2 separate regions of the Homo sapiens genome follow, and region 1 is linked to region 2. Evidence: fine-mapped expression QTL. A gene starts in region 2. The other region holds a variant in brackets. All regions are shown on one strand. Distances are from middle to middle.

The links. PIP is the estimated chance that this variant, and not a neighbour inherited with it, causes the effect. A credible set is the group of variants that fine-mapping cannot tell apart.
Region 1: its variant is the best candidate, but not a certain one, in a credible set for the expression of MTIF2 in neutrophils (BLUEPRINT, PIP 0.75).

Annotation. Positions count from the first base shown.
Region 1 is chr2:55,398,160-55,403,544 of GRCh38, forward strand. All of the region lies in intron 2 of CCDC88A (coiled-coil domain containing 88A), which reads right to left. Among named protein-coding and RNA genes, the nearest start is that of CCDC88A, 19 kb to the right of the region's middle. The variant CATATATATAT/C (reference allele first, on the strand shown) is at 3,340.
Region 2 is chr2:55,267,042-55,272,426 of GRCh38, forward strand. It overlaps MTIF2 (mitochondrial translational initiation factor 2), which reads right to left and starts at 2,190. Exons shown (of 16, transcript NM_002453.3): 1 at 2,128-2,190; 2 at 1,537-1,698; 3 at 528-594. RefSeq lists enhancers at 2,133-2,282, 2,228-3,051.

The DNA of each region.
Region 1 (5,385 bases), 130 kb after region 2:
TGAAATAAGTACGTGGGCTGTGAAGGGATTTCTATGCTCTGATTTGACTCTAGGAAAGCCAATAGAATAGCGGAGTTCTTGAACAGGCTAATACCTAAGCACCCCAAACCTCTATCTGTAACTTCTGTTCTACATTGTACCTACTCAAGAGTTATTTTAGTATGAAAACAGAACTGAAAAGTTCCTATTTCTTTATAATCATCAGATATTATATCATTATCTATTACTATAAACTATCTGTACTTAGAGCCCAGGATAACCATTAAGCACTCTCGGCATGGATCTAGAAAGCAATAAACTTCCCATTATAAGGCTTGAGTTTCCCATTTGATGCATGCCCAGTTTGAGTAAGGGCCATACTGACACATGTTAGGATCACGGAAAACAGGCCTTTTCACCCTAAGGATGTGATCTCTTTAGGTGAGAGGGACTGCCCTCAGGTGAAACTACCAGAAAAGTCCTAAGCTCCTGGGCTGGCAACGATGGCTTACGCCTGTAATCCCAGCACTTTGGAAGGCCAAAGCAAGAGGATTGTGTAAGCCCAGGAGTTCAAGACTACCCTGGGCAACACAGTGAAACCTCATCTCCACAAAAAAATTTAAAAATGAGGCAGGAAGATTGCTTGAGCCCAGGAGTTTGAGGCTGCAGTGGACTGTGATTATACCATCGCACTCCCACCTGGGTGACAGAGCAAGACCCTGCCTAACAAAAAAAAAAAGAAAGAAAGAAAAGTCCTAAGCTCCACCTCCATGAAAAATGGTTGACTCTTTAAGGGTAATTTATAGAAAATTATGCAAATCAAGAGAATTAGTAGCTTCGGAAAAATAATACCTGGCTTTGCAGTAAATATTATATAGTTATAATAATGTAAATACTGATGACTGATTTAACTAAACCTGTGTTAACTATATTAGAAAGATAGGGTAAGAAGAAATACAGGAGCATAAAAAAGATAAAATCTTATCTACCACTATCAGGAAGTCATAGACAATGTCTAAAAGGAATAAATCAAGAAATACCAGAATAGACACATTATCCCTATATATGGGCTAAATAACAGAAGAAATTGCTTTTAAAAAAGTTTAAAAAGCTGTCACTCTGGGCCAGGCACAGAGGCTCATGCCTGGGAGGTCAAGGCGGGTGGATCATGAGGTCAGGAGTTCAAGACCAGCCTGGCCAAGATGGTGAAACCCCGTCTCTACTAAAAATTAAAAAAAAAATTAGCTGGGCGTGGTGGTGGGTGCCTGTAATCCCAGTTATTCAGGAGGCTGAGGCAGAGAATTGCTTGAGCTGGGAGGCGGAGGTTGCAGTGAGCCGAGATTGCGCCACTGTACTCCAGCCTGGGCGACAGAATGAGACTCTGTCTCAAAAAAAAAAAAAAAAAAGTGGCACTCCAGAGAACTGAACTGAGATATGAGGAGAAATACAGCAGAGAATTTTTGTTTGTCACTGTGAACCTTTTGGTACTAATTAATTTTTTAAGCACGTAAAACATTTTTTAAGGACTTTTTATTGTTTCATGAAACCTATTTCATTTACCTGAGGGAAAAATATTAATAATTGTGTTGGATTGTTACTTAGCTGAAGCACATTTGATAAAGCTATCTCTGCATAGAATTCGATGTCAGGAATTCAGAGTCATAAGACATTTGTGAGACTAAGCATAAACCATAAGAAAAGAAAACAGTATTAAAAATTTCTTCTATAAAAAGAATGCATCCTATATAAAGACAGAAAAAACACTCATTCCTGTGTGTGTGTGTTTTTATCAGCTTCCTCAGGTTGAATCCTGTATTCTATTACTTTTAATATAATAAAAATCACAATACAGTAATTTAAACAAACAGTATGGTATGACTCCAGAATGCTCTAAAAAGAAATGTAGTCTATTAAGTATGACTCACAGAATTCTCTAAAGAGAAAATGTAGTCTATTAAATATTCCAAATATTCTGCCTTTCATTTTAATACTTAAAATGCAAAACAAAAATTAATTCAGAATAATCACAATTAATAAAGTTTTTATCAGGCTCTTTTTGAAAGCATACTATACCATTTTTTTCTAAAGAATGTATCTTTGGAAAGGCCGTTTTCTAAAATAAAAGATGAGCTACTGAACAATATACATGTGACATGTCAAACGTGAGCAAGTACCTTTCCAATCACACACAGCTATTTCCAAGGCAACACAATTTCAAGTCAACCATCTTCTTTATAAGATGAAAACTAAAAAAATGCTTTAGTGACAAATAGCCTAGCAATATGGCTCAAATCTGTCCAACCAGGAGTTAAATGCAACATGGCAGTAAAAGAGGGCCTCAAGCAATTTCACATTTATAAATGATCTACTTATGACAAGTTGCATTAATTTCAATTAAAATAATAAACGGACAGTAGTATTATCAACCACTGTATATAAAAATTTGTAAATCAGGAAAAAAGATGAAGTTAAAGTTAGCAATTTTGCAACGCTAATACTCTGAGATTTGGTCCTTGTATGATCAAGGATTATATCTTTACTTATTCATTAACTAATATATATAAGAAACAGAAATCTGATAGCTTTAATGGCTCTATGCTCTTCTCCTCCAGAATGTAAACCTGTTGTATGTCCTCTTGGACCATCTGTTCTGTGTTGGTGCTTAACTGATGGTGGTTTTTGATCATGGCACTGTAACTTAAAACTATGGTTGTAGTGTGGTCTTTTAATAAATTTTTGAGATAATTTATAAAATAACATAACTATGTAATATTTGCATGTCACTATGATACATCTGAAATAACTAATTTATGTATCTAACTTTAAATGTGCATAAACCAGAATGTTTGCTTTATGAAAAATAATTAACTGGGTAAACAGCACCACCATTAAGGGTTATCCAAGTATCCAAGTAGTAAGGTATTTCAGGAAAATTAATGGCTTTTTTATTTTGCAGCACTGGTCTGAGGGTACATAGAAAATTAGTGGTTTTAAGGGAAAAAATGTATTGGCTAGGGGAGGTGGCTCATACCCATAATCCCAGCACTTTGGGAGGCTGAGGCCAGAGAATTGCTTCAGGCCAGGAGTTTGAGACCAGCCTGTACAACACAGCAAGACTCCTTGTCTACAAAAAAACAAAATTTTAATTAGCTGGGGACAGTGGTGTGTGCCTGCAGTCCTAGCTACGCAGGAGGCTAAGACAGGAGGATCACTTGAGGCCAGGAGTCAGAAGCTTCAGTGAACTATGATCTCACCACTGCATTCCAGCCTGGATGACAGAGAAAGACTCTGTCTCCAAAAAAAAAAAAAATATATATATATATATATACATATGTGTGTGTATGTATGTGTGTGTGTATA[CATATATATAT/C]ATATATATATATATATATATATATATATATTCCTTCAACTTAATTTCTCCCCCCCATAAATTCAAATTCAATTACTTTGCATGACAGCCAACAATAAATCTAATATTAATATAAGCTTTTACCTATCTACAGAATATTTTCACATATATTAACTATCTTGAACTTCACATTGACTGAACAGTCATTCTTGGAGAGGTACATGACATATAATTACCATACAGAGATTACAGACACAGCCTTTCATGTTTTTGTTCTCATAATTTTGGACACATTAAGTTACCTTTTCGAAAGTTGGAAAATCTATGACATTTTCTAGTTAGCCCAAGATTAAGCTAGCAGTAGGGCATGATATTCACTGATTTAACAAACAGAAGTAATGCTTTAATTTAAAAACTGCAAATGGACACAAAAATAATTAAAATCCAGTACTATACATATACTTTACTTTGGTTTCATCTAAACTTAATAAAATGGCTGAACCCACCCTTTATTTCTTTTAGAATAAGTCAACTTAGCCCTTCAAATATTAAGTTAGCAGTTTTTTAACTTTTGGTCTCAGAACCCCTTTTTACTCTTTAAAATTATTGCAGACTCCCAAAGAGCTTTTGTTTATGTGGGTTATAACTATCTATATTTACTATATTAAAATTTAAAATAAAGAATTTTTAAAAATATTAATTCACCTAAATGTAACAGTGTTTGTTAACATAAAGAACATTTTTATAACTTTTCAAAACTTAACATTTTAGTGGGAAATAACATTCTTTCACTTCTTTGCAAATCTCAGTGTTTGGCTTAATAGAATACAGCTGTTTTCTTAAACCTGCTTCTGCATTCGGTGGTTGTGATACATTGTTTTGCTTTAAGTATAAGAAATATGACCGCACACAAGTATGTAATTAGAAAAAGGAAAATTATTTGATTGGCATATTCATACAATTATTGATATTCTTCTTTGATATTACCAAAATTCAGTAAGGGTTATTTCTTAAAGGTTAAGTGCAATATGGAATCTGAAACTCTATCAATGAACTTTTCTTTCTCTGTTTTACATTAAAATCCATTGGTCTATCTGGCACGTTCAATGGATCTTTTAACTATGTATGCATAACTTCTTAACATCGTGCATTGGTCATTTAGAAATTATTGGTTCTTTGAATTATACAGATCTTCCAAATGTCGGCACATTTTATTACTATTTAAAAAAAAAAAAAAACCGGCCAGGCGTGGTGGCTCATGCCTGTAATCCCAGCACTTTGGGAGGCCAAGGCAGGCGGATCACAAGGTCAAGAGATCGAGACCATCCTGGCTAATATGGTGAAACCCCATCTCTACTAAAAATACAAAAAATTAGCCAGGCGTGGTGGTGGGCACCTGTAGTCCCAGTTACTAGGGAGGCTGAGGCAGGAGAATGGCGTGAACCCAGGAGGCAGAGCTTGCAGTGAGCCGAGATCACGCCACTGCACTCCAGCCTGGGCAACTGAGCAAGACTCCGTCTAAAAAAAAAAAACCACATTCATTAATATCACCTCCAATCTCATCAGAAAAGTCTTTAAATATTGAGTAGCTGTCAAGCCCATGTTTTCTATAAATCAAATTTCATCATTGACAACAAATACAATCAGTTGTTTTCCCTGAAGTGACAGGCTCACTTTATTCATTTCTGAGGAACTGTCTGCCCAGTACTCAAGTATTAACAACCAGTTTGTCTGTCATTCTTTCAAGTAAAAATGGTGTTCCAAAAAACAGAGACTACTTCAACCTTGGAACTCAAAAACCATGAGTACTTTTTCTTGAGATAATCATCGCACTTTGTTATGCAAGAACATTATGTATGGTTCCCGTTTTGCCCACAGAATGTTAAAAAGATTCAAGGGTCAAGACCCAACAAAATAACTTTTATTGCTTCATCAAGGACATTTTTAAGTGAAACTGGGTTTATTTATTATACCTTACAAGTGTGTAACGAGAAGAATACAATGATTGCCCACACAATTTGGTACAATTCCTTGATTCATACTAAAATGTCAGCAGT
Region 2 (5,385 bases):
TTACAGGCGTGAGCCACCACGCCTAGCCTAAATGTTACATTTCAACCAATCTTCCCAAAGTGTATTTTATGGTTCTGACATAGTAAATGTATGGTTCTGACATGGTAAATAGAATATACTGAATTTTTTTTTTTGAGATGGAGTTTTGCTCATCGCTCAGGCTGGAGTGCAATGGCGTGATCTTGGCTCACTACAACCTCCACCTGCTGGGTTCAGGGGATTCTCCTGCCTCAGCCTCCCAAGTCGCTGGGATTACAGGTGCCTGCCAGCACACCCGGCTAATTATTTTGTATTTTTAGTAGAGACGGGGTTTCACCGTGTTGGCCAGGCTGGTCTTGAACTCCTGACCTCAGGTGATCTATCCGCCTTGGCCTCCCAAAGTGCTGGGATTACAGGCGTGAGCCACCGCGCCTGGCCTATACTGAATATTTTTTAAAAGAAAGAAAAGAAATGATAACAGAAACAAGTACAGTATAGCAAAGAAAGTATCTTATTAGGCAACAAAGGAACCTTAGGTGGACACTCACTCTGACAGTCAGTGTTATCTGGACTCAGCAAGTCACTTGTTTCCTATGGGCCTCATTTTCCGGATCTCTGTTAAAAATAAATAAATAAATAAGTGTTTGAATATCTGTCCTTCCTATTACAAGACTAAGAGGAGAAAATGAGATGATGTATATACTTTATCATCAGCTATTTTAAAACCATATCACATGTCTTGATACTCGCTTATAAGCTTTGAGGATTCATTGCTTATAAGTTAAAAATATTCACAAGTCATTAACTTGTTTACCTTCGGACAATTATGAGGTTGTGTATGTGTGTGTAATCGAGCAAGCATTTTACCTTAAAAGGCTTATTCGAGTAAAGATCAAGGAAAAATCTAACTTAATGCCAACGAAATAAACACATTAAGATTTAGAAATTCAGGCTGGGCGTGATGGCTCATGCCTGTAATCCTAGCACTTTGGGAGGTCGAGGCGGGCGGATCACCTGAGGTCAGGAGTTCGAGACCAGCCTGGCCAACATGGTGAAACCCCCTCTCTACTAAAAGTACAAAAATTAGCCGGGTACGGTGGCGGGCGCCTGTAATCCCAGCGACTTGGGAGGCTGAGGCAGGAGAATCGCTTGAACCCAGGAGGCAGAGACTGCAGTGAGCCGAGATCAGGCCACTGCACTCCAGCCTGGGCGACAGTGAGACTCTGTCTAAAGAAAAAAAAAAGAAGATTTGGAAATTCATTCAATAGTATTTACACACATTAAATACTTCTAAGAATGGCACATGGAAAATATCTTATTTACGTTTGTGCCCCTGGACCAAGAAGTAGAGTGCTCAGGTAACACAGGATTCCTTGAGAAAATAATTTTTAAATCAGTATGAAACCAGATTTGAGAAGAGCACAGATTAATGGAGTGGGAGGAAGGACCCTACGAGATATTAACCAAAGCACAGATATGTAATTGAGGCAGGAACTGGAAAGACACATTGGAGGCAATAACCCAAATGTCAAAACTGGAAGGAAACTTGTCACTTACTCCAAGCTCCTCATTTTACAGAAAAGGAAACGGAAATCCAGAAGGGTCAAAAAAGCTTCTCCAATGTCATACCGCTAGTTAATGGCAGTCAAGACTAGAACCCAGACGTTCTGACTCCCAGTACGGTGTTGTTTCGCCGCTAGGATATCCTTGTCAAGGAATCTGAAAAAAGTATGTTGCAAATACGTAGTTGCGTTAGGGAAAACGTCTGAATGTGAGCTGGAAGCTTTGGAACTTACCAGAAAGGTAAAAATAAATCACTGCAGAAAAATTACGGATCTGGGGTGGCTCGCCTCAAATTGGAGCCCAGAAGGCCTTGGGCCCATGGGAGGCTGGGAAGTGAGGACCTGCACCCACAGCCGCGCGCGAGGAGGGGAAGCCGGCCAGCCGCTTCCGAGAGAACAGTGCACATGCCTTCGTGAATGCCTAACGTGGGCTCACGCAGGGATTAAATGCATCTTGGAAAGGCTTCCGAACGCACAATGTTTATGAAGTTCGCGTGATTTGTGCCACTGACACGTTAGGCGAAACAACACACACCACCTGCACCGGACAACCCTGGTTAAGGGATCCTACCCACTTAACTCCTACCTACAGCCCCGGGCCCCTGGATTCTGAGCACGGGCGGAGATCACCTTCTGGACCCGGAAGAATGGTCGGTAGGTCAGTCCGTCCCCGCTACGGTCCCCGCCGGGCTTCCGGTCCCGCTGGAAAAGGTTCTTTCCGGAATTCAGAGAGTTGCTGTCGCCGCTGGGGGTGGGACTGTCTGCGGTGTCCGCGGCGGGCGTCCAGCCTGGGAGGCGCTGGTTCAACCTGTGGCTCCTCCCAGGGTCAGCCGCGCGTGGTGAATCGTTTCTGCAGGTCCCTTCCATTTCTTACTTTCCTTTCCTTTCTTTCTCTCTTTCCTTTTTTTCTTTCTGTCCCTCTCCTTTCTTTCCTTCCTTCCTTTCTTCATTTCTTCCTTCCTTTCCTCTTCCTTCCTTTCCGTTTTTCTTTCTCTTTTTTTTTTTTTTAAGAAAACTGCCTTTATTCAATTAGAAGTTGGAAAAATTAACTGGTACAGAAAAAAAGTGTAATCAGCTGGAGAAAAAGTGCCACCCATGAGAACTGATGGCTCCTCTGGGAGGGAATCTGGATACAGTGAGGATTTCTAGGAAGCAAATTACTTCTTCTCTGGGGCTATGAGAGGCCTCGGTGGTGCTTAACACTGTAGGAAACGTTAAATGGAGAATTGTGGGAGAAATGATACCTCCTTCAAAGATACGTGTTCCTAACAAGAAGGAAAAAACAAATGCAAGCGAACAGTGGCGGTAGAACCAGTTAGTATTGTGCGAACAGTACTTTCTGTTTTCTCCTAAGTCAGCTCGTGTGTATGGCATTAGGAGTAATAGAGCCAGAGTGCCTGGTTTCCTATCCCAGCTCATTCCTAGTGTGTGGTTGGGAATGTTTTGTCAACTGTCCATGTCCCAGTTTGTTCATCTACATTATAGTAATGACAGTAGCTAGTTCACAGGATTGTAATAAGGTTTTTGTTGTGTTTTTGTTTCTATTTGTTTTTGAGATGGAGTTTCGCTCTTGTTGCCCAGGCCGGAGTGCAATGGCACGATCTCAGCTCACCGCAACCTCTGCCTCCCGGGTTCAAGCGATTCTCCTGCCTCAGCCTCCCGAGTAGCTGGGATTACAGGCATGTGCCACCACTCCTGGCTAATTTTGTGTTTCTTGTAGAGACAGGGTTTTTCCATGTTGGTCAGGCTGGTCTCGAATTCCCTATTTCAGATGATCCGCCCACATCGGCCTCCCAAAGTGCTGGGATGACAGGCGTTAGCCACCTCTCCCAGACTGTTTTTTGTTTTTTTTGAGACAGTGTCACTCTGTCGCCCAAGCTGGAGCACAATGGCGCGATCTCGGCTCATTGCAACCAAACTCCGCTTCCTGGGTTCAAGTGATTCTCCCGCCTCAGCCTCCCGCGTAGCTGAGATTACAGGGGCACATCACCATGCCTCACTAATTCACCATGTTGGCCAAGCTGGTCTCGAACTCCTGACCTCAGGTGACTGCCCACCTAAGCCTCCCAAAGTGCTGGGATTACAGGCATGAGCCACCACGCCCGGCTGCAATAAGCTTTTAATGGGTTGATAAACTGTTGATAAGTAGTGCCTGGTTCATAGTATGTGTTTGCTGTTATGGTTATTACTGCCTGCCCCCAGAGCTTTCCCTCATCTTGCTTGGACATTATGACTTTCAGCTGGTCGTTTTGACCACAACCATCACCACCTCTCAAATATAAATATTGTTTTATTATCTCTGTCTTTTGGTAAAAGGAATTTGAGAAGAAAACAAAATCAATCAATTAATCTTTGTCTTTAAGATCTACCACTCCCCTGGGTAATTGGTATGGTACAGAAGTTCATTACTCAAAAGCATACTTGCCATTGAGGGAAGAGAGAGACCCTCTCATATTGTTTTATATTGTTTTATACTCAGTACCTGTTTTAAGAGAGAAAAAAGAAGTGAAATCAAAGACAGGCAGTCCGGCGCCAGGCCCAAAACCAGGCCTGGCTCTGCCTGGCCTAAACCCAGTAGTTAAAAATCAACTCAGGCTGGGCGCAGTGGCTCACGCCTGTAATCCCAGCGCTTTGGGAGGCCGAGGCGGGTGGATCACGAAGTCAGGAGATCGAGACCACCCTGGCTAACACGGTGAAACCCCGTCTCTACTAAATATATATTAAAAAAAATTAGCCGGGTGTGGTGGCGGGTGCCTGTAGTCCCAGCTACTTGGGACGTTGAGGCAGGAGAATGGCGTGAACCTGGGAGGCGGAGCTTGCAGTGAGCCGAGATGGCGCCACTGCACTCCAGCCTGGGTGACAGAGCGAGACTCCGTCTCAAAATAAATAAATAAATAAATAAATAAATAAATAAATAAATAAAATAAAAATCAACTCATAACCTAGAAACCGATGTTATTCATAGATTCCAGACATTGTATAGAACATTGTGAAACTCCCTGCCCTGTTCTGTTTGTCTCTGACCACCGGTGCATGCAGCCCCTGTCACGTACCCCTTGCTTGCTCAAATCAATCACGACACTTTCATGTGAAATCTTTAGTGTTGTGAACCCTTAAAAGGGACAGAAATTGTGCACTCAGGGAGCTCGGATTTTAAGGCAGTGGCTTGCCAATGCTCCCAGCTGAATAAAGCCCTTCCTTCTACAACTCGGTGTCTGAGAGGTTTTGTCTGCGGCTCATCCTGCTACACCATCATCTTACCTCCTAACTCATGCCCCCATCCCAACCTACCAACCTCTTTTTTTTCCCCACTTTCCCAATGCCTACTACAAAGGTGTGTAATCGGTGTTACTGAATGATTTAATGCAAACTCCTCTCCTGGACATTTTTTTTTTTTTGAGATGGAGTCTCACTCTGTCACCCAGGCTGGAGTGCAATGGCACGATCTCAGCCCACTGCAACCTCCGCCTCGCAGGTTCAAGCGATTCTCCTGCCTCAGCTTCCAGAGTAGCTGGGATTACAGGTGTCTGCCTCCATGCCCGGCTAATTTTTTTTGTATTTTTAGTACAATTGGCCTGGCCGGTTTTGAACTCCTGACCTGAAGTGATCTGCCCGCCTCAGCCTCCCAAAGTGCTATGATTCCAGGTGTGAGCCAGTGCGCTAGGCCTGGAAATTTTTTTTAACTGAACCTAACAGGCACAACAGTTGAAAACTATTGAAGTTTACTCCAACTGCTATCATTTTACCTACTACTCGCAGATATCTACTGAAGTTTAATTTCTGTGAGAAGTAATTCTTTGCTGTCTTACTTGGCTTGCAAGGCAGTTGAGAAACAAGCAGAAAT